Homo sapiens: one gene and its partners. The protein of the gene in region 3 purifies or fractionates together with the protein of the main gene of each other region. This does not show direct contact. Each region holds a gene or a part of one and is shown on either strand. Other genes may lie near its edges.

Region 1 (3,037 bases), on a different chromosome or scaffold from region 3:
CACATTTTGCAATGTAATGTCACAATGTAACGTCGCAGCAGGAAGAATTGAGAGGTGAAGCTGTCTGATCTCATCTCACAATTCAGGCTTAGAGTCAACTGGAAATCCAAACAAGCACTAAAGCACGGTCAGCAGGCACAGTACATGTGTGTGTCTCGTGTGTCTCTCACACACGTACTGTCTTTCAAATGCACAGATGCTTCTGTGATTCATACAAATGCATTTGAAAGTATGACTGGATCTACAATAGTTTTAGCATTTCTGTATTTTCTCAAACAGCAAATACTAAACACATGACCATTTTCTGGGAGTTAGGATTCCCAACTAACCCCTTTGAGTTCCAACATTCTGAGAGTTTTAAACAGCAGTTGGCCAGGGGTCCCAAACAGATGATCCTAGGAAAACAGGAGGCTGGGCAGGGGTGGGAATCTAAGGGCTCCTGTCTTGGTCCCAAAAATCTCAGTTTCAAGCAAGAAAGGGAAAAAAAAAAGGCTCCAAAGTGATCAAAATGTTGCTACATTTTATTTTCAACTTAAAACTTCATTATAAAATTTGCCAAATAAACATGTCAAAAACAAACTTAAAAACAAAGTGTAGCTGATATCCAGAAATTGCAGCACTGTATTGATAAAGGGCTCTTTTCATTACCAGGGAAAGAATTTAATGTCCTTCCTTCCTCCCCAAAAGCTTCCTTGGTGCAATCCAGTACAGAAAACGCCACCACTTTCTGATGCCAGGAGAAAAGCAAAATAAAAAAACTGCTTGCACACATTAGCACTGATAAAACAATGACAATTTCACTAAAAGAATGTTTAAAGACTACCGGATGCTGGAGCAAACCAACTTCATGACTGCATTAACATAAGCTAAGTTACATACACTTCAAATGCAGTATAGAATTAACACTGCATATCTAAATGGCTCATATATAAAATGTGTAATTAAAACCCAAACATACACACTATGTTTATTACATTCCCCTACATTGAAAGTACTGAGAACAATTTAACTCTGAACACAAAAGTTTAGTGAATTTGCTACTGTTCCATTACAGGACAATTAAAAATGAGACTATATCAACTTCACTAGAATTTAATTGCTAAAGCTACCTTATGCACATCTATTAAACTAAAAGAAACGACTTTAACCCCTTCAGTTGTTTTTAAGACAGCACTCCTTTACAGGGAGTCAGGTTTGGTAAATATAAAGGATACATAAAAAATACAGTATAAACTGCATAAGCTTAACAGTAGCAAAAACACTGATGAACTTTTAAAAAGTCAAAAATATATAAAAATATTAGCCTGAAATGGCAAATTTTCAAACACCGATCTGTGTAAAAATGTTTAAATATTGATGTTACTCCAAAAATATATACTTATTCTATTTTTTTTCTATTTGCAACAGTTTATAAAGGCAAACAAACACCTGCAATTGAGGTAGCAAAGCCAAATTCACAAACTTTGGATCAAGAAAAATACCCTTCCTATGTTTTAACAGCATCTTCTATACAATAGTGAATGAATTCTAATTGTTCCAAAATTTTTAATTCACATTACTTTACAAAATTTTATTTAAAATACTGAAAATGTTTTGTTAAAAAGACAGTTAGTCCTGACAATCATCTCACATTCAAAATACTGTACAAAAAAATCTGAAGTCACCATATATTACAAAAAACTAAGCTATGTATTTACATTTTCAATGTAGTTTTAGAAGTTGAGGTTAAGCCAACTGCTACAAATGGTCTCCTTTAAGCAGTGTCTGCTAATAATGTCATCACTTTTCACTTTCAGCATTTAATATAGGCCCTTCTTTTTGCTTTCAAATTATATAATTAGTAAAGGATTTAAAGAAAAACAAATGAAAATTCTATTCTCTTACTGAATAAAACATAAATGTACTTTAAATGGAACAGTGTTTTCATTTAAGAAAAGCCAACTGGCAAAAAAACATCAAAATTTGAAAAGTAATCAGAAACCATAAACATCAATAGCATTCTTCACAGTACATTTATATTAAGACTGTCTTCTGTTTTCAGATTAAGGGTTGAAAATTTCCCATTAAAATGCAAATTCTCACATCCTTACTTGTATTTTTCCTATGTTAACTGTAAGTTAATACAAGTAAACACGGCTATATTAAAAGATCAACTACTCGGCTCCATAGTCCTGACTCAAAAAGAAAAAAAAAAGTACAGACCCTGTCAGTGCAACAAAAGAAAGTTTCGGATTTTTTTCCTTGTTTTTGCAAATGGCAGCTGGAATTGCAGGAGTATTTTGTAGAAAAGCCAGAAGAGCATTAGTAGATGTATGGAAATATACGGTAGGGCACACGCTGACAGTACTTTTCCCAAGCCACGCCGTATTTCTTCTTACAGTGGTACTCGTCACGAGCTTCTCGGTGGACAAGCAACATGGTGAAATAAATTATGTAGAAATAAGGCAGAATGTGGTTAAAACCTGTGGATAATAATAGTACACAGTATTAGATATTTTTATTATCACTACAATGTATTTTTTCCTGCTTTCCCCCAAATTCTCTAAAAATGGAACCACAAGGTACTTCATTTTCTCTAATAATGATGAGAATAATTAAACAAGTCTGTAAAATCCCACTGGAAAGTGGCAGAAGGTCGTATCTAAATTAGAAGCTACTCAAAGACTGATGAATCCATTCTAACAATCCATCACAATCAAAACATCTGTCCTCATAGTTAATACACATCTCTTCATTTCTCGCCCTTCTTCCCCCAGCAAAGAAGAAAAACTGCTGTCTTCCACCACAGGCTGGGCCACCAAACAGGCAGCAGGCACGGGCCAGCTCCTCCACCTCCACCAGCTCCCCTGGATCCCCCTGCTCCCCCAGTTCCCCCAGCTCCCCCAGCTTCCCAAGATCCCCCTGCTCCCCCAGTTCCCCCAGCTCCCCTGGCTCCACCAGTACCTCCAGCTCCCCCTGACACCCCAGCTCCCCAAGCACCTCCAGCTCCCACAGCTCTCCCTGCTCCCCTGCTTTCCCAGCTCCCCACGAGGCCAGA
Region 2 (3,500 bases), on a different chromosome or scaffold from region 3:
CTTTGTGAGGCCAAGGTGGGCGGATCATGAGGTCAGGAGTTCAAGACCAGTCTAGCCAACATGGTCTCTAATAAAAATACAAAAATTAGCTGGGCATGATAGCGGGTGCCTGTAATCCCAGCTACTCAGGTGGCTGAGGCAGGAGAATCGCTTGAGCCTCGGAGGCAGAAGTTGTAGTGAACTGAGACCAGACCACCACACTCCAGCCTAGGCAACAGAGCAAGACTCCGTATCAAAAACAAAAACAAAAACAAAAAAAGGCAGGGCCCAGTGGCTCACACCTGTAATCCCTGCACTTTGGGAGGCCGAGGCGGGAGGATCCATGAGGTCAGAGGTTCAAGACCAGCCTTCCCAATACAGTGAAGCCCCATCTCTACTAAAAACATAAAAATTAGCTGGGCGTGGTAGCATGCACCTGTAGTTCCAGCTACTCAGGAGACTGAGGCAGAAGAATCGCTTGAACCTGGGAGGAAGAGGTTGCAGTGAGCCGAGATGGCACCACTGCACTCCAGCCTGGGCAACAGAGCAAGATTCCATCTCAAAAAAAAAAAAAAAAAATAGGGCATCACTTTTCCGACTGTCAGCCAGTGACCAGTAGTAAGAAACACTAACATTAAACCATGAGTCAGCTTGCTAATGTCAGCATCATGATAAACATAAATAAGTTTGTTTTGCAATGATGACAAGGTTAGATAGCATGATCTTTTACCAAAAACTAAATTTTAGGTGGAGATGAGAAGGCAGATGACAGGAAAACACTAAGGGGTGATAACCTAAGTCACCGCTCCTAAAACAGACAGGAGACAGTAGGTCAGCTGTAATAAACTGCTCCACAATGGATTACACAGACACTGGAGAAGATTGTGATCTTCTCTAGAAATCTTAAATATTTTTTTCAAAAACATGCATACTTGGGAGTAGGTAAGATAGGGAAGAACCTCCAAGTCTCCTGGTGCCCAGTCTCCCAAGAAGCTGGAGAAAGCACAAGCAGCATCACTGATGAAGGCTGACTCCCAGATATCACTCCATAATTTTGGAATTCAAAAACTGCCTCTTGGCCAGGCGTGGTAGCTCACGCCTGTAATCCCAGCACTTTGGGAGGCCAAGGCGGGTGGATCACTTGAGGTCAGGAGTTCGAGACCAGCTTGACCAACATGGAGAAACCCCATCTCTACTAAAAATACAAAATTAGCCACGAGTGGTGGTGCATGCCTGTAATCCCAGCTACTTCGGAGGCTGAGGCAGGAGAACTGCTTGAACCTGGGAAGCAGAGGTTGCAGTGAACTGAGATCGCGCCATTGCACTCCAGCCTGGGCAACAAGAGCGAGACTCCCTCTCAAAAAAATACATAAACTGCTTCTTGTTGGTCACCCAGATATTCTCTAGTCAACATTTCAGTATGTTCAAATCAAAGAATCAGGAAAACAAATGATCCGGCATTTGACTGCTTCTATGCACCTGTACACTGGACTTTCTGGAAAGGTGAAGAGCTGGCTGGAGCTCATCAGGATCCAAGTATTAAGGAGCTGACAAGGGTCACTGTGCCTTCTCTTCTGTGCTTACCTCAGACAACAGCCCCTAACAGACCAGTCTGAGATGCTCCAGGTTCACCCACACAGTGGCCCTGTACTGTCTGCTCAAGCTGAGCAATCAATCACCAACCTGAGACAGATTCAGGGATTCACTCGAGGGGTCAAATGGGAAATAGGCAGCTGACAACTCTCCCAATACCTAAACCCATCAAAGCAATTACCTGCACCTTAAGCAGAATCCAAATTGGCTATGGACTCAGATGTCTGATAACCTAAAAACTAAATGGTGGCCGGGCGTGGTGGCTCACGCCTGTAATCCCAGCACTTTGGGAGGCTGAGGTGGGCGGATCACGGGGTCAGGAGATCGAGACCACCCTGGCTAACACAGTGAAACCCCGTCTCTACTAAAAATACAAAAAATTAGCCGGGCGTGGTGGCGGGCGCCTATAGTCCCAGGTACCCGGGAGGCTGAGGCAGGACAATGGCATGAACCCGGGAGGTAGAGCTTGCAGTGAGCAGAGACTGTGTGCCACTGCACTCCAGCCTGGGTGACAGGGCAACACTCCGTCTCAAAAAAAAAAAAAGAACACTAAATGGTAGGCCCAGCACGGTGGCTCACGCCTGTAATCCCAACACTTTGGGAGTCTGAGACCAGCCTGGCCAGTATGGTGAAACCCCATCTCTACTAAAAATACAAAAAATTAGCCAGGCGTGGTGGCGGGCACCACTGGTTGCTATTTACCCAAAGAGATAGAGGAAAAGAAACTCTAGACGTCTAATTGCTTACTCTGAAAAGGGTGGTGGGAAACACTAAAAGAACTATCATATGCTAAGGTTAATTCGCCTTACGAGGTGAATCCCAGCTACAAGGGAGGCTGAGGCAGGAGAATCGCTTGAACCTGGGAGGCGGAGGTTGCAGTGAGCCAAGATCACGCCACTGCACTCCAGCCTGGGCGACAGAGCAAGACTGGCTCAAACAGAAAACAACAACTATAAATGGTAAACTTCACAACAGAGAACAAGCCAACCAAGAGCTGCCAAGTTCTTTAAAAGGTGGCTTTCTGTTCTACTGCCCTCTCCCTTCAAAGTGTTTCTCAACTTTAGCCTGTTTCTTAAAAGAGCAGATCTAAATGATAAAAAAAAGACATTCGATTCCAAAAATTAAGTCCTAATCACAACCTACCACTTACTAGAAAGTCACCCAATCTCTCTCTATCTCTGAGTAGCGTTATGAAACATAAACCCTAAAAGCCCCTGAGCACAGACAGCACCAGCACAAAGACTTGTGTCCTAACAGTATGGCAAAACTGGACAATATCAGCACACGTCATCTCCACTGAGGAGGCTGTCCCTCCACACACGGACTGCCTGGTGCTGTTACCAGCTCTCCCGGCCCAGCAGCACTGACACAGGCCGGTGGTCACTGAGCCTGAGAAAAGCCCATGATGTCAGTCAGAACTGTCACAGCAGACAGGTGCCCTTGTGCTGCACTAGGCACGTGCGCTAAACACCTCCAAAGAGCCGCAGAGGGGCCGGGCGCGGTGGCTCACGCCTGTAATCCTAGCACTTTGGGAGGCTGAGGTGGGTGGATCACCTGAGGTCAGGAGTTTGAGATCAGCCTGACCAACAAGGAGAAACCCCATCTCTACTAAAAATACAAAATTACCCAGGCGTGGTGGTGCATGCCTGTAATCCCAACTACTCAGGAGGCTGAGGCAGGAGAATCACTTGAACTCGGGAGGCGGAGGTTGCAGTGAGCTGAGATCGTGCCATTGCACTCCAACCTGGGCAACAAGAGCGAAACTCCATCTCAAAAAACACAGCCGCAGAGGAGCTCGTCGGGTCTCCATTGCATGGATGATGAAAGTGAAGCACAGCTACCAAACCACTAAGTAAGCAATGGAGTCAGGATCCAAGGACCCTTGTGGTCTGGCTCCAAAGACCTGCACTTCATCCTCACAAATCTGA
Region 3 (2,425 bases):
CCCACAGCCTCTCCATCTGAACATGACCCAAACGAAACTCGTGACCCTAATTCCATGTCTGCGCATTTCTAGACTGTTGTCCCCCCCCCCCCCCGCCCCGACTACTCAGTCCTCCGTCTTCCGGTCCAGGGCCCCTTGCCAAGCACCGGGTCCACCTCTCCGTCCCCACCCCGGTTGCCTTAGAAGTCCGTCCTGTCGCAACACTGCAGTCATGGTCTTGAGGCCCACCCGCCCCAACGAACACCATCATGCTGAGGACTTTCCCGGGCAGGCCCTGACTTGCTCAGAACCAGCGGGGGTGTCCCCTTCCCACCCAGGGCCACTCCCCTGCACTGTCACCCGGAGAGACTGCTCCTCTGTGCCATCCCTGGCTCCCACCCAACCCCAGACCCCCACCACCTCTCCATCCCTCCAGCTGTGGAGGTCTCACAACCCCCCAACCCATCTCACCGCCCCCCCACCCCCACCCCAAGGCAAAGTGACTGAAGCGGGCAGATGGCTTCCTTGAAACATTTTATTGACAGAATTAATGAAGGCCCAAGACTTTGGGGCCTGGGTTGTGGGGGGAGGGTGTTTAAGGCCGGGGGTTCAGGCCGGGGGATTTGGGGCCGGGTGGGTGGACGAGTGGACCTGTCAGGTCCCAGGGGCCGGGTGTCAGAAGCTAGTCCTCGCCAGGGGCCACTTGAGAGATGGTGGTCGTGTTGAAAAGGGTGCTCAGTAGCCTGTCGTTGTGAACCACCATGTCCAGCAGCAGGGGAGTGATGTTCCGCTCTCCGCTGTTCTGGGCCTCGTTGCCCGCCAGCTCCGGGACCTTGGCCGTCAGGTACTCAATAACCGCAGCGAGGTAGACCGGCGCCGTGCGACTCAGGCGCTGAGCGTAGTGGCCCTCCCGTAGACTGCGCTCCACCTGGCTCACTGAAAACGAAAGCTCCGCTCGGACGGTGCGAGAGCAGGTCCGCCCCCGGCCGCCAGCACCGGAGGACCCTCGGCGTCTCCTCCTCCTCGGCATGCTGGGCGTTGAGTGTGCTATCTCGGCTTGGCCCAGCTAGGCAAGATGGCTCTCAAGAGGACAGTTACCGCGTCCAGTACTGTGTATCCTAGCGACCAGGGCCCAGCCCCTCATTGGCTAGGGAGCCGAGACCAATGGGCACGCACATCCGGCGACGGGCACGCATGTGGTGACGGCCCCTCACAAGGGACACACGTCCGTCAGGTGACCTCATCACTTTCCCATTGGCCTCGAGGGAGCAGGCCTGGGCCTAGAAGTGGCTGGAGGGCCGTGGGGGTGGGGTGGGGCGGGGCAGGGGGAATCGCGCTGGTGACCCTCTCTTTGCCAGTGGGAACTTTCCCTTTCTACTGGATGGGAACACCGTGGGAAAGACAAAGGGGTGGGCGAGGGGAGGACGGGTACCACGCCTTCACAATGTTGCACATCCATCACGACCACCTAGTTCCAAAACGTTTTCAACACCCCGAAAAGAAACCGAAACCCCTGTACCTATAAGCAGTCACTTGCCGCACGCCTCCTTCCACACCACCACTACCAGCCCCCACACCCTCCCACACACACCCCCTGCCCCCGCCCATACACACGTTCCCGATAGTCCCTGGCAACCCCTAGTCCATCTGCTTTCTGTCCATAGAGGTTAGCCTGTTCTGGAGATTTCCTATAGATGGAATTATACGACCAAATGTGAGGCCGTGTGTGTCTGGCTGCTTTCACTTAGCGTAATGGTTTCATCAGGGTGCATCCATGTAGAGGCATGAATCACTACTTCCTTCCTTTGAATGACTGAGTACGATTCTGTTGTATGAATAGGAGGCCACATTTTGTTTACCCACTCGTCAGTTGATGGACAGGTTATTTCCCCCTTCTGGCTATTGTGAGTGGCACTGCCATGACCATCTCTCTACAGGTTTTTCTTTGAATATCTCTTTTCAGTTCTTTTGGGTCTATTTCTAGCAGTCAAACTGCTGGCTCGTGTGGTAATTCTGTTTAACTTATTGAGGAACCACCAAACTGATTTCCACAGCAGCTGTAATCTTTCGCATTCCCAACAGTAGTGCATGAGAGTCCCAATTTCTTCACAGCCTCATCAAAACCTGTTTTCTGTTTGCCTCATTTTGTTTTGTTTACAGTAGCCATCCTACTGGGTGTCAAGTGCTATCTCATGGTGGTTTTCATTCGTATTTCCCAAATGGCTAATGATGTTGCTGTGGTTTGAGTGCATCCCCCAAATTGTGTGTCTTGGAAACTTAATCCCCAAATTCACATGTTGATTGGAGGCGCAGCCTCTGAGACGGTAATTAGGATTAGATAAGGTCATCGGGGTGAGACCCCCAGGATGCGACTGGTGGCTTTATAAGAATAGGAAGAGAGGCCTGAAACGACATACACGCTCTTGCCCTCTCGCCGTGTGATACC
Region 4 (2,632 bases), on a different chromosome or scaffold from region 3:
CTACTCCATGTATCCTTCCACCTGAGGCTGGGGTGGGCGGGGAACGCCCAGGGCAGAGCTGGGGAGCCACTTCACAGTGAGCTGTTTGCCTCCGCTCCCCACCACCGCAGCCAGGCTGGGACACAGGGTGGGCTGTGCACGGGTTGGGCAGCCCAGGCCCCAGCAGCCAGGCCCCTCGCCAGGACCATGTGGCGATCAGCGGCAGACCCGCCAGTCTAAGTCCTGGTGAGTGGTGGGCAGGGGGTGTCACCAGAGGGCCAGGGCCAGCACTGAGGCCTCCCTGTTGGACTGCTGGGATCCCCTCTGCCCGCTCCTGTCAGTCATCCCCCTTGACCGGCCCCTCTACCTCCTCTGCCCCATCTCAGCCCTGCCGCCCAGCCGGACCTTGCGACAAGGAGCACTGGGCAGGGTGGTGGGAGGGAGGGCGTGGGCAGCCCCGAGTGCCAGACCTGTTGGAACCTCCCGTGGCTGCCTCCTGGCTCTGTGACCTCAGGCAGTGGCTGCCCCCGACCTTTTTTGAGACAGGGTCTCGCTCTGTCCCCCAGGCTGCAGTGCAGTGGTGCAGCTGTGACTCATGGCAGCCTCCACCTGGGCTCAGGCCACCCTCTTACCTCAGCCTCTGGAGTAGCTGGGACCACAGGCACACACCACTGCACCTGGCTTTTAAATTTTTTGTAGAGATGAGGGTCTCACTATGTTGCCCAGGCTGGTCTCAAACTCCTGGGCTCCAGTGATCCTCCCGCCTCAGCCTCCCAAAATGCTGGGATTCCAGGCATGAGCCACCGTGCTCGGGCCCCTCTCTGTGTTGTCTTCAGTAAAGGGAGTTCCCTGTGGCCCCTCAGGCTGAGCTGGGCTGTTCCTTAACCACATGGCTTCAGTGTGGCGGGCGTGTTTGTGTGCCTGCTGGAGTACCCCCGGGGGAAGAGGAAGAAGGGCTCCACCATGGAGCGCTGGTGAGTCTCCTCCTGCTCTGGGGTCTCTCCGGGGGCTGCGGGGCCCAGGCAGGGCTCACAGGGTTGGGTGGAGCTTGGTTTCTCACTTGGAGGCTCCGGAACCAACCCTTTGGTGCTTGTGGGTAAACCAAGGCCGGTGCCTGCCCGGTGTGTTTTGTGGGAGGAAAGAGGCCTGGGTGCCCTGGGGTGGTCAGCAGGGCAGCAAAGGAGTCCCGAGTGGGAGAGGCCCAGCCGCGCCGTCTCGCCTTCCTCCCTCCCCCAGGGGACAGAAGTACATGACCGCCGTGGTGAAGCTGTTCGGGCCCTTTACCAGGAATTACTATGTTCGGGCCGTCCTGCATCTCCTGTGAGTCCCCGTCCCGCACCCCCTCTAGGGCTCAGGAGGGCTTGGAGCCGACCCTCCCCACTGTCCCACCGGCCGGGCTGCCTGGACAGGAGCCACCCCCACTTACCTCAGTGTTTTTCCAAACAAAAATTCGGGTCCCTGGCTCTGGCAGGGCCTGTGTCTGCTGTCTAGTGTGCAGGATTTGTAAGGATCCACTCCAAATCCGAGGAGCTCCGATCCGTCGCCAGGGTCTGGGGTCAGCATGCACTGCTGGGGGGTCTTGCCTGGGCTTCCTGGTAGGGTGGAGGGTTCCGTGCTGTGTGTCTGCTGGTTACTGCCGGCTGAGGCCAGGACACCCACACGTGGCTGCTTCCTCCGAGCAAGTGCACCAGAGCCGCTAGTGTCCACATCAAGGCTGAGAACACCCAGGACCGAAACAAGCCCCGGTCCGCGCACGTCCCCTGGGTCTGCAGTCTGCCTTGTCCTGAGACTTTGTGGCCTTGGCCCCCAGACCTGGGGCTCCGTTCCCCTTTCTGAGTGCCCTTCTGTGTCCCTGCCTCTCACCCGCTGTCCCCCAGGCTCTCGGTGCCCGCCGGCTTCCTGCTGGCCACCATCCTTGGGACCGCCTGCCTGGCCATTGCGAGCGGCATCTACCTACTGGTGAGTGGCGCCCTCTGAGGTCGGCCCCGGCCACCCCCATCCCCAGCCCCTGCCCTGACACCCTCGGACACGCATGGCCCTTGAAGCCGGCTCTGTAGGCTGAGCCAAGGCTGGGAGCAAGTGTGAGCCTGGGCGTGTGCTCACAGCACGGCGGGGACGCAGCGGTTGCTGCTGCCATTTTTGGCGTGTCTAGTGTGTCGGGTCATTTCCTTGCATTTCCTCATTAACCCGCACCACAGCCCTGGGAGGGGTACTGGGGTCCCCACTTTACAGACAAAGATGCGGAGGCTCAGGGAGGTGCTGTGACTGGCCTGGGGTCACGCAGCCGGCCGAAGACCGTGCCTGCGCTTGGGTCCCATTATCAGGCTTTTCTCACCTAAACCCTATTCGCGCTGATTCATGGGCGGTGCCAGGACGCAGACATTTTCTTAAACTGCCGACACCTGCGTTTGGTTTATGACTGCTGCACCCTGTTAGAAGGCTGCCCATCCCATGGGATACAGTGATCTCTCTGAGAGGCCAGGGATGGGTGGGAGGACAGGGCGCAGCCTGGCCAGGCCTTGGGTGAAATGCCCTCTGCCTGCCCTGGGCTCCGGAACAGACGGCTGCAGGCCACCTCTCACTGCGGGGGTCTCTGGGTGGACAGAGCCCTCAGACTTTGCTTATTTAAATCCTTTTGTCCATAGAGCCAAGT
Region 5 (3,985 bases), on a different chromosome or scaffold from region 3:
CTGCGGGGCGTCCAGCTGTGCATGCCTCTGGTGTGAACTGGGAAGGGTGGCCTCTGGTCAGACTCACACAACACACCAAGATGAGCTCACACCAGAACCACCTGAGACTCAAATGGCAGTTGACTGCCCCCAGGGGACATCTTCTTGACTAGAAGAGTCCAACATCTGGAGACAGAATGGGAGGGGTCCTCACGGCAGAGAACAGGGCCTCTTCTAGTCTGTGGCGCCCACCAAAATGGCAGGGACACTGTGCTGAGGTGGGAGGATTGCTGGCCAAAGACAGGGGGGTCTAGTAAGAGCCAGAACAGGGGAGCAGGCAGGACAGGGGACAGCCCCTGGGCCCACAGGGCCAGCACCTTCCAGGGGCAGCTGTGCTGGGTGTAGCAGGTGGACCTGGGAAAGGACGGCGCCAGACCTGCCGCCAGGACTCAGGGGCTCACTTGGGGCAGGAGCACAGTGTCCCTCACATTTCTGCAGGGCCCAGAGGTGGGAGAAAGGGCACAGGGTGGCCCTTCTGACAGGGGGGTGGGGGTGTGTCCCTGCTGGGGACTCTGTTTCCTGGGAGGGCCTGGATCTCTAGGTACCTTTCAGAGCCTTTAGCATCTCCTCTGGGTAATGGGGATGAAAACACTCCTCCCTCTAGTTTACAATTATTAGATACACTGATGCATAGGAGGATGCAGGACCTGCTGGTCTCCCATCTTCACAGCCAGGGAAGAAGATGCAGGACCCTAACAGAGAGCACAGGATGCAGCAGGTGCCAGGGAGCCTGGACCAGGCACATCCTGCACTGGCCACAGGGGAGGACACAGGGGTGGCTGTCCTGGAGCCTGCTCTCTGGACCGCTGAGTGTTATTCAGGGTCTTTCTCCAGGGTGTGGACACCTGTCTTCTCACCTGCCCCCTGGTCTCCTGCCTTCCAGATTCCTGTGGCCCACAGGGAGCAAAGTGTGGCCAGCTCTACATCCCCATTGTCACTCCACAGTGTCTGGTGGTTCAGTGGTCAGAGTGGGCACATCAAAACCAAAGCTTGCCCAGAGGCATGGCAGAGAACTTCCTTGTTCTGACGCTAATGAGGGTGGCACACTCGGCCTGAGCTGGAGAAGGGGTGGGGCAGGGTATCGCTGACTCAGCAGCTTCCAGGTTGCTCTGATGATATATTAAGGCTCCTGAATCCTAAGAGAATGTTGGTGAAGATCTTAACACCACGCCTTGAGCAAGTCGCAAGAGCGGGAGGACACAGACCAGGAACCGAGAAGGGACAAGCACATGGAAGCCAGCCCAGCATCCGGGCCCAGGTATGGGAAGCCCCTCCGAGCACCTCTGCGCCTCAGCCTCCTCTTTGAGCTTTTCTGATGAGCACTCACCTCTCACCCTCAAACCCCTGGGGCCTCTCTTTTCCTCCTGACCCTCTCTCTGGACCTGGCCTCTTGCTCTAGGTTCCCAGTTTTGGTCCCAGCGCTGGTCTCTCCTCCGATGGTACCAATTCCAGGTCTCCTTCCACCTCCCGGGGCAGGTGCACAGGGAGCCTGAAAATCCCAATAGATAATGGTGCTGTGCCCCAGCCAGTGAAGACGGTCAGAGAGGGGATTCTCCTCACTTGTCTTTAAATGAGCATCTACTATTTCTTGCAAATGTTCCATGTATCTGGACTTGGCCTAAGCCCTTTTTATGTTCAGTGTCATCTCGTTCTCCCTAATATTAAGAAAAGGGGGTTGCTTGTAGGACTGCTTGGCTATGAGGAAGCCTTGTTTCCTTTTTTTGAGAACACAGAGCAAGTGAGTGGTAGAGCCCAGATTCATGCCCAGGTCTACTCGAAATGGTGGGGAACATTTTGAACCTTCCTTCCTTCTTTCCTTCCTTCCTTCCTCCTTCCTTCCTTCCTTCCTTCAATTCTCTCTCTCTTTCTTTCTTCTTTCTTTCTCTCTCTCTCTTTCCTTCTTTATTTCTTTTTCTTCTTTCTCTCTCTTCCCTCCCTCCTTCCTTCCCTTCTGTGCTTCCTTCCTTTCTTCCAATATTTCCCTTTCTCTCTTCCTCCCTTCCTTCCTTTCTCTTTCTTTCTTTCCTTCTTTCTTTCTTTTTCTTTCATTCTTTCCTTCTTTCTTTCTTTTACTTCCTTCCTCCCTCCTTCCTTCCTCTCTTTCTTCTTTCCTTTCCTTCCTTTCTTCCTTCCTTCCTCTCTTTCTCCCTTTCTCCCTCCCTTCCTTTCTTTTTTCTTTCTTTTCTTTCTTTCTTCTTTCCTTCTTTCTTTCTTTTCCTTCCTTTCTTTTTTCTTTCTTTCTTTCCTTCTTTTTCTTTTCCTTCCTTCCTCCCTCCCTCCCTTCCTTCCTTCCTCCATCTCTCTTTCTCTTTCTTTCTTTCTTTCTTTCTTTCTTTCCTTCCTTCTTTCTCTTTCCTTCTTTCTTTCTTTCTTTCCTTCCTTCTTTCTCTTTCCTTCTTTCTTTCTTTCTTTTGTGCTGCCTCCCAACAGAGATTTTTCTAATTCTGATTATGTCAGGATGCATAGAGAGGGGCTGGGAGAGGTCTTCAAGGTGGGGCTGGTGTTTCCAGCCCAGGAGTCCTGAGCTGCCCCATCTCAATTGCCTGAGAAGCACATTTGGGAGACCTCAGGGCACCCTAAGGGATGTGGAAAATCCTATGAATTACCCGAAAAGAAGTCCCTGGCAGGTTCCTCTCCCCAGTCATCCCCCTCAGGAGTGTCCCTGTCCCGATGCTCGGTGTGGTAGGAGTTAACCCTGCAGGCAGGAGGAAGCCCCAGAGGGTCCATCTCCAGCAGGGGCTGTGGGTGAGCAGAGCCAGGACAGGGGTGCATGGTGAGGCCACAGAATAAGACCCAGCTCTACCCCAGGGAGAGGAGCAGGGTCCTCCTCGGAGGGCCTGAGCACACTGAGCTGACCCTGGGGAGACCCTGACAAGGCTTAGACAGGCCCCAGGGCTGCAGTGATCTCCCAGTGAGCCATAGAAGGGGTCAGAGGGGGAGGTTTGGAAGTGTGCTAAGGGATGTGCGGAGCAGGGGGAAGGAGGGTGGGGTGCAAGGGAGGAAGTGTGGGGAGGGAGGAGGAGGCAGGGCAGTCCAGGAGGGCTCTTCCTCCTCTGGTCTTTTCCCTGGCTGTCCACAGACACTTGATGGATCCACACATATTCACTTCCAACTTTAACAATGGCATTGGAAGGCATAAGACCTACCTGTGCTACGAAGTGGAGCGCCTGGACAATGGCACCTCGGTCAAGATGGACCAGCACAGGGGCTTTCTACACAACCAGGTGACCGACCCAGCCATCCGAATCCGGGCAGGGCCCTTCCAATCCAGGGACATTCATAGGTAGAAGGTTCCGGATTGTACTTGTGGTTTCCTGCAGTGTTTGTCACTTGTGCTTCCTGCAGCTGCTGCTGCTTGGCCCTGGGGTTGGGGGGAGACTTCGGCTTCAGTGACTATCCATGCCCAGGTGGGGTTGAGTCTGCCCAATGGCAAAGTGCTTCCTGAGGACCCTCCCAGGATCCCCTCACAGACACAGCTCTCACCAGGAACAATTCAGCAATGTGGGATCTGAGGACTCAGGGCCTACCTGACCTCACAAGGCCAGGATGCCCCAGTGCCCTCTCCTGGGCTTCATCCTGCACGGAGAGAGACTGAGGCAGGAGAGGCTGACCAGGGATCCTGTCCTGCCCAGGGTGGAGCCCACAGCAAGGCCAGAACAGGTCCCATGTCAGGATGCAGGGATGTCCAGCATTTGGGGAGGAGCTGGGCCAGGCCAGGCTGAGGGGCCCTGAGCCCGGGGGACTTTCTTCCCTGGCCCCTACCCAGCACAGCCTCTGTCTGGAGAGACCAGGTAATGCTTGGCTCCGGTGCTGGAAACTGGGACCTTCTCTGGGCTCTATGAGCTCAATGTGGGCCTCGCTGGATCCACACACACTGCTTGGAACATCCTTTCAAGGGTGCCAGTCTCCATCACCGCCTAAGCAGTGGGACTCCCCCAGGAACGAC
Region 6 (3,021 bases), on a different chromosome or scaffold from region 3:
TCCTTTCTTCATTCAGTCCTTATCCCCAATATTCTCCACCTCCATCAATTCCATATCCCAAAGTATGAAATACCTGCAGTCCTGAGATCCCAGTCTGCCTCTGCTCCCCCGAGGTATCCAATCACAAATCTGAAAGATTATCCAGTCCCACCTCATGCCTTCAGGAAGACCCGTTCCTGACCCACACAAACAGATGAGACTCATCTTGGCTTTAAAACCTGCTCATAGATGTTCAGCATCCTCTCGATAACTGTGTTTCATCTTATTTCTGCAGTGCCAGCCCAATGCAGGGCAACGGGGCTTTGCTTTGGGCCTCCCTGCAGGTGGCACTAGGGAAGGTAGAGAAGGGAAGACAATGTTTGCCGCTTCCGTGGTCACTCTACTGCTGTTGCCTTTGCTTCTGGAGCTGCTTCTACCAGCACTGCCTCTCTCCCTCCCACATCACTGCCAGGGTCTGAGTGAGACCTACCCCCAAGGACTCATCCAGGCAGCCACACCGGTGGTTTGAAATAATCTTTATTTTGTAAACATCTGTGTTTAAAATAGATGAACCCTGCTCACAATTCATATATGGACCCGAGACACAGTACACGAAGTTCACCCGTCACAGGGAGATAGTGGAGGCTCAGGAGCAGGTGGCGTGCCTGGGGCTGGATGGAGTCTCAAGACAGCAGGTGCAGAGGTGGTGACGAGTAAACAGGCCAGCAGAGCCTGGTTAACAGTCTGGGCCTCAAGACATGCCCCAGGCCACCAAAAGTTTAGGGTGAGCGTAGCTGCACCCTAAAATCCCAATTCTCCTTCTGCTCCCATACCTTTTCCCAGTCATGGCCCTTGTGGATAGGGCCTATCAGTCTATAGAATCCTGATTCCATGTTTTCCCTTCCAGAACCCCTAGGGTACAGTACAAATATAGTCCTTCTTTCCTGAGGGGGCTAGGAGAGAAAGACAATGAATGGCACCCTGCCTGATCTTCAGGGAAAGCTGAAATACTGGTCCACAGATTGGAGCCACTGCCCAATATAACTTCTCAAGTCCCTGGCTGAAGACAGACTTGAGGGCTGGCATCACCTACTTCCCTAGCCCCAGTGTGATGTGGCATAGGTCTTGATACCCAAGGAGTCCCATCTTCAAGGAAGCAACTCCAGCCTAGTCACAGCTTCATCCTAGAGTTAGCTGTCTCCTTTTCTCATTAGCCAGTGATTTACAACTTCCTGCTCTCCTTTGCTTTCCACCATCTAAGCTATACCCTGTCCCTAAGTCCTGAGCCACCCTCTCCTGCTGTTTTCCTGGTTTGGTAAGTCAGGAGGAAAGGTTTGATGGTTCTTTCCCCACTTCTTTTTGGAGGAGTAAGGAAGTGAGGTTCTTATCCTTCACATATGAGTGCCCTGGATTTTGGTTCTTAGTTGATGAATACTCAACACCCAGTTCTTTGTTTTGGCTGCAGCCACGCAGTGCAGCTAATGTGTGGCTTAAGAATGACCCTCTTCCTAGGCCTCGCCCACCTTGGGACGGTGGGCAGGAACCCCAGTAGAACTGGTAAATTACTTGTTCCGTCTTTAAAGGGCCTCCTACGAGCTACTCTTGGGCCATATGGGGTTAAAGAAACTTCCTGAACATAGCACTCTGGAGGAAGGAGTCCTCTTCCCTCCACCTGTAGCCACAGTGTGGTTGGCAAACCCTCAAGCCTATCAGGAGGTAGAGGGCAAGATGAGCGCTTTGTCTTAAAGGCCAAAGAGAACAGCACCAAGCGTTTCTACCCAGGGCCTTCCTTCTCTCTTCCCATGAAGTCTTTGCCCTTCTCCCATAAACTTTGGGTCCCAGGAGAACCTTGGTTGCTGAAGGCTAGGCTCAGTCCTCCGCCTGGGAGTCTGAGGAAATGCTCTTCTTACCTAAGAAATGGAAGATGGGGCCTAGGAGGCCCTGCTGTTGCTACATTCCCCTCTGCTGTGCAAACTGCTGTCCCTGGCCAGCTCTCCCTTGCTCTTAACCTGATACATAGGAGCTAGTCCTTCATTTCCAAATGCTCCCCTTTGTGGAGTGCATGGTTGGCCTGACAGTGTCACTGACCCCAGGGCTCTCCTTGCCCCTGGAGTACCCACAGGCCTTGGTCCACATCTTTAAATTTGGGAGCCAGGTGGAGAGAAATTGTGTTCATGCTGCATGGGAGGTAGAGAATGGAGGTGACTTTTTATCCCTGCCACCCCTCATTTTGTTTCCTTCTCTGAAGCACCTGCCTCTGAGCTCAGTTCCCCAAAGAGGCAGGCGGGCAGCCAAGCAAGGGCAAAGCTCTGGTCGGGGAATGGGTAGAGGTAGGGCAGCCCCAGGCTCGAGGACTCCCTGGTTGCCGTTTCCCTCCTACCTCGATGCTCCACTTTCGCAGGTCACTGGGGAGGCAGGCCCATGGCACATGAGGGACAGTGGGGGTGGGGGAAGAGGAAGAAGCACCCTGTAGCCTTTGGCCCACCCACGAGGCAGGGTGGAGGGTTCTTCCTGGATCCAAGGGTGGAACCTCCCCACGAGCCTGGGTCCATCCCCTTGGATAGCTTAGGAAGGAAGGAAAGAGCGAGCTGCACACAGCAGGACACACGGGGGACGGGGTTTGAGGAGCTTTGATACGAAACGCACCGGAGGGGAGGGGTCAGAGAAAGAGAAGTGGGGGAAGAGAGAAAAAGCAGAGAAGAGACACGATGCACGGAGAAAGGAGCAGCTGAAAGTGGCCTGGACTCCAGCCCTGGCTGTTGTCTGGTGGGTGCGGGATGGTGAGACAGTGCTTGCGGCACATCGTGGGGGTCGTAGCAGGCCTGTGGCTGGGGAAACAGGCTGAAGAAGACCACTCCAGGGTGGACGGGCTGGGGACAGGGGCTGCTTGAGATGACAGCAGAGCCGCTCTCAGGGCCAGGCAGGGGGAGTAGTGGCTACTGATACTCAATAGGGTCATCACACGAGAGGACAGCAGCAGGGCAAAGCCCCGGCTCCCCTGTCTGCCCACGGGCCTCCTGAGGGAAGAGGGGTGTCGTGTGG

What was found.
Region 1: the proteins of H2AB1 (region 3) and LBR purify together in Homo sapiens (affinity purification with mass spectrometry; one large-scale study listed by BioGRID and IntAct). This does not show direct contact.
Region 2: the proteins of H2AB1 (region 3) and LUC7L purify together in Homo sapiens (affinity purification with mass spectrometry; one large-scale study listed by BioGRID and IntAct). This does not show direct contact.
Region 4: the proteins of H2AB1 (region 3) and CYBA purify together in Homo sapiens (affinity purification with mass spectrometry; one large-scale study listed by BioGRID and IntAct). This does not show direct contact.
Region 5: the proteins of H2AB1 (region 3) and APOBEC3A purify together in Homo sapiens (affinity purification with mass spectrometry; one large-scale study listed by BioGRID and IntAct). This does not show direct contact.
Region 6: the proteins of H2AB1 (region 3) and RAB15 purify together in Homo sapiens (affinity purification with mass spectrometry; one large-scale study listed by BioGRID and IntAct). This does not show direct contact.

Annotation. Positions count from the first base shown.
Region 1 is NC_000001.11:225,401,002-225,404,038, forward strand, and holds the end of LBR (delta(14)-sterol reductase LBR), read right to left. Parts: intron 2,463-3,037; coding exon 2,302-2,462; 3' UTR 501-2,301; downstream 1-500. UniProt on the Homo sapiens protein: Catalyzes the reduction of the C14-unsaturated bond of lanosterol, as part of the metabolic pathway leading to cholesterol biosynthesis.
Region 2 is NC_000016.10:208,950-212,449, forward strand, and holds part of LUC7L (putative RNA-binding protein Luc7-like 1), read right to left. Parts: intron 1-3,500. UniProt on the Homo sapiens protein: May bind to RNA via its Arg/Ser-rich domain.
Region 3 is NC_000023.11:154,883,634-154,886,058, reverse strand, and holds H2AB1 (histone H2A-Bbd type 1), read right to left. Parts: upstream 1,088-2,425; 5' UTR 1,010-1,087; coding exon 662-1,009; 3' UTR 501-661; downstream 1-500. UniProt on the Homo sapiens protein: Atypical histone H2A which can replace conventional H2A in some nucleosomes and is associated with active transcription and mRNA processing.
Region 4 is NC_000016.10:88,645,422-88,648,053, reverse strand, and holds part of CYBA (cytochrome b-245 light chain), read left to right. Parts: coding exon 1-9; intron 10-878; coding exon 879-953; intron 954-1,215; coding exon 1,216-1,299; intron 1,300-1,856; coding exon 1,857-1,938; intron 1,939-2,624; coding exon of another isoform or gene 2,625-2,632. UniProt on the Homo sapiens protein: Subunit of NADPH oxidase complexes that is required for the NADPH oxidase activity that generates, in various cell types, superoxide from molecular oxygen utilizing NADPH as an electron donor.
Region 5 is NC_000022.11:38,956,424-38,960,408, forward strand, and holds the start of APOBEC3A (DNA dC->dU-editing enzyme APOBEC-3A), read left to right. Parts: upstream 1-1,185; 5' UTR 1,186-1,268; coding exon 1,269-1,297; intron 1,298-3,118; coding exon 3,119-3,263; intron 3,264-3,985.
Region 6 is NC_000014.9:64,945,316-64,948,336, forward strand, and holds the end of RAB15 (ras-related protein Rab-15), read right to left. Parts: 3' UTR 501-3,021; downstream 1-500. UniProt on the Homo sapiens protein: The small GTPases Rab are key regulators of intracellular membrane trafficking, from the formation of transport vesicles to their fusion with membranes.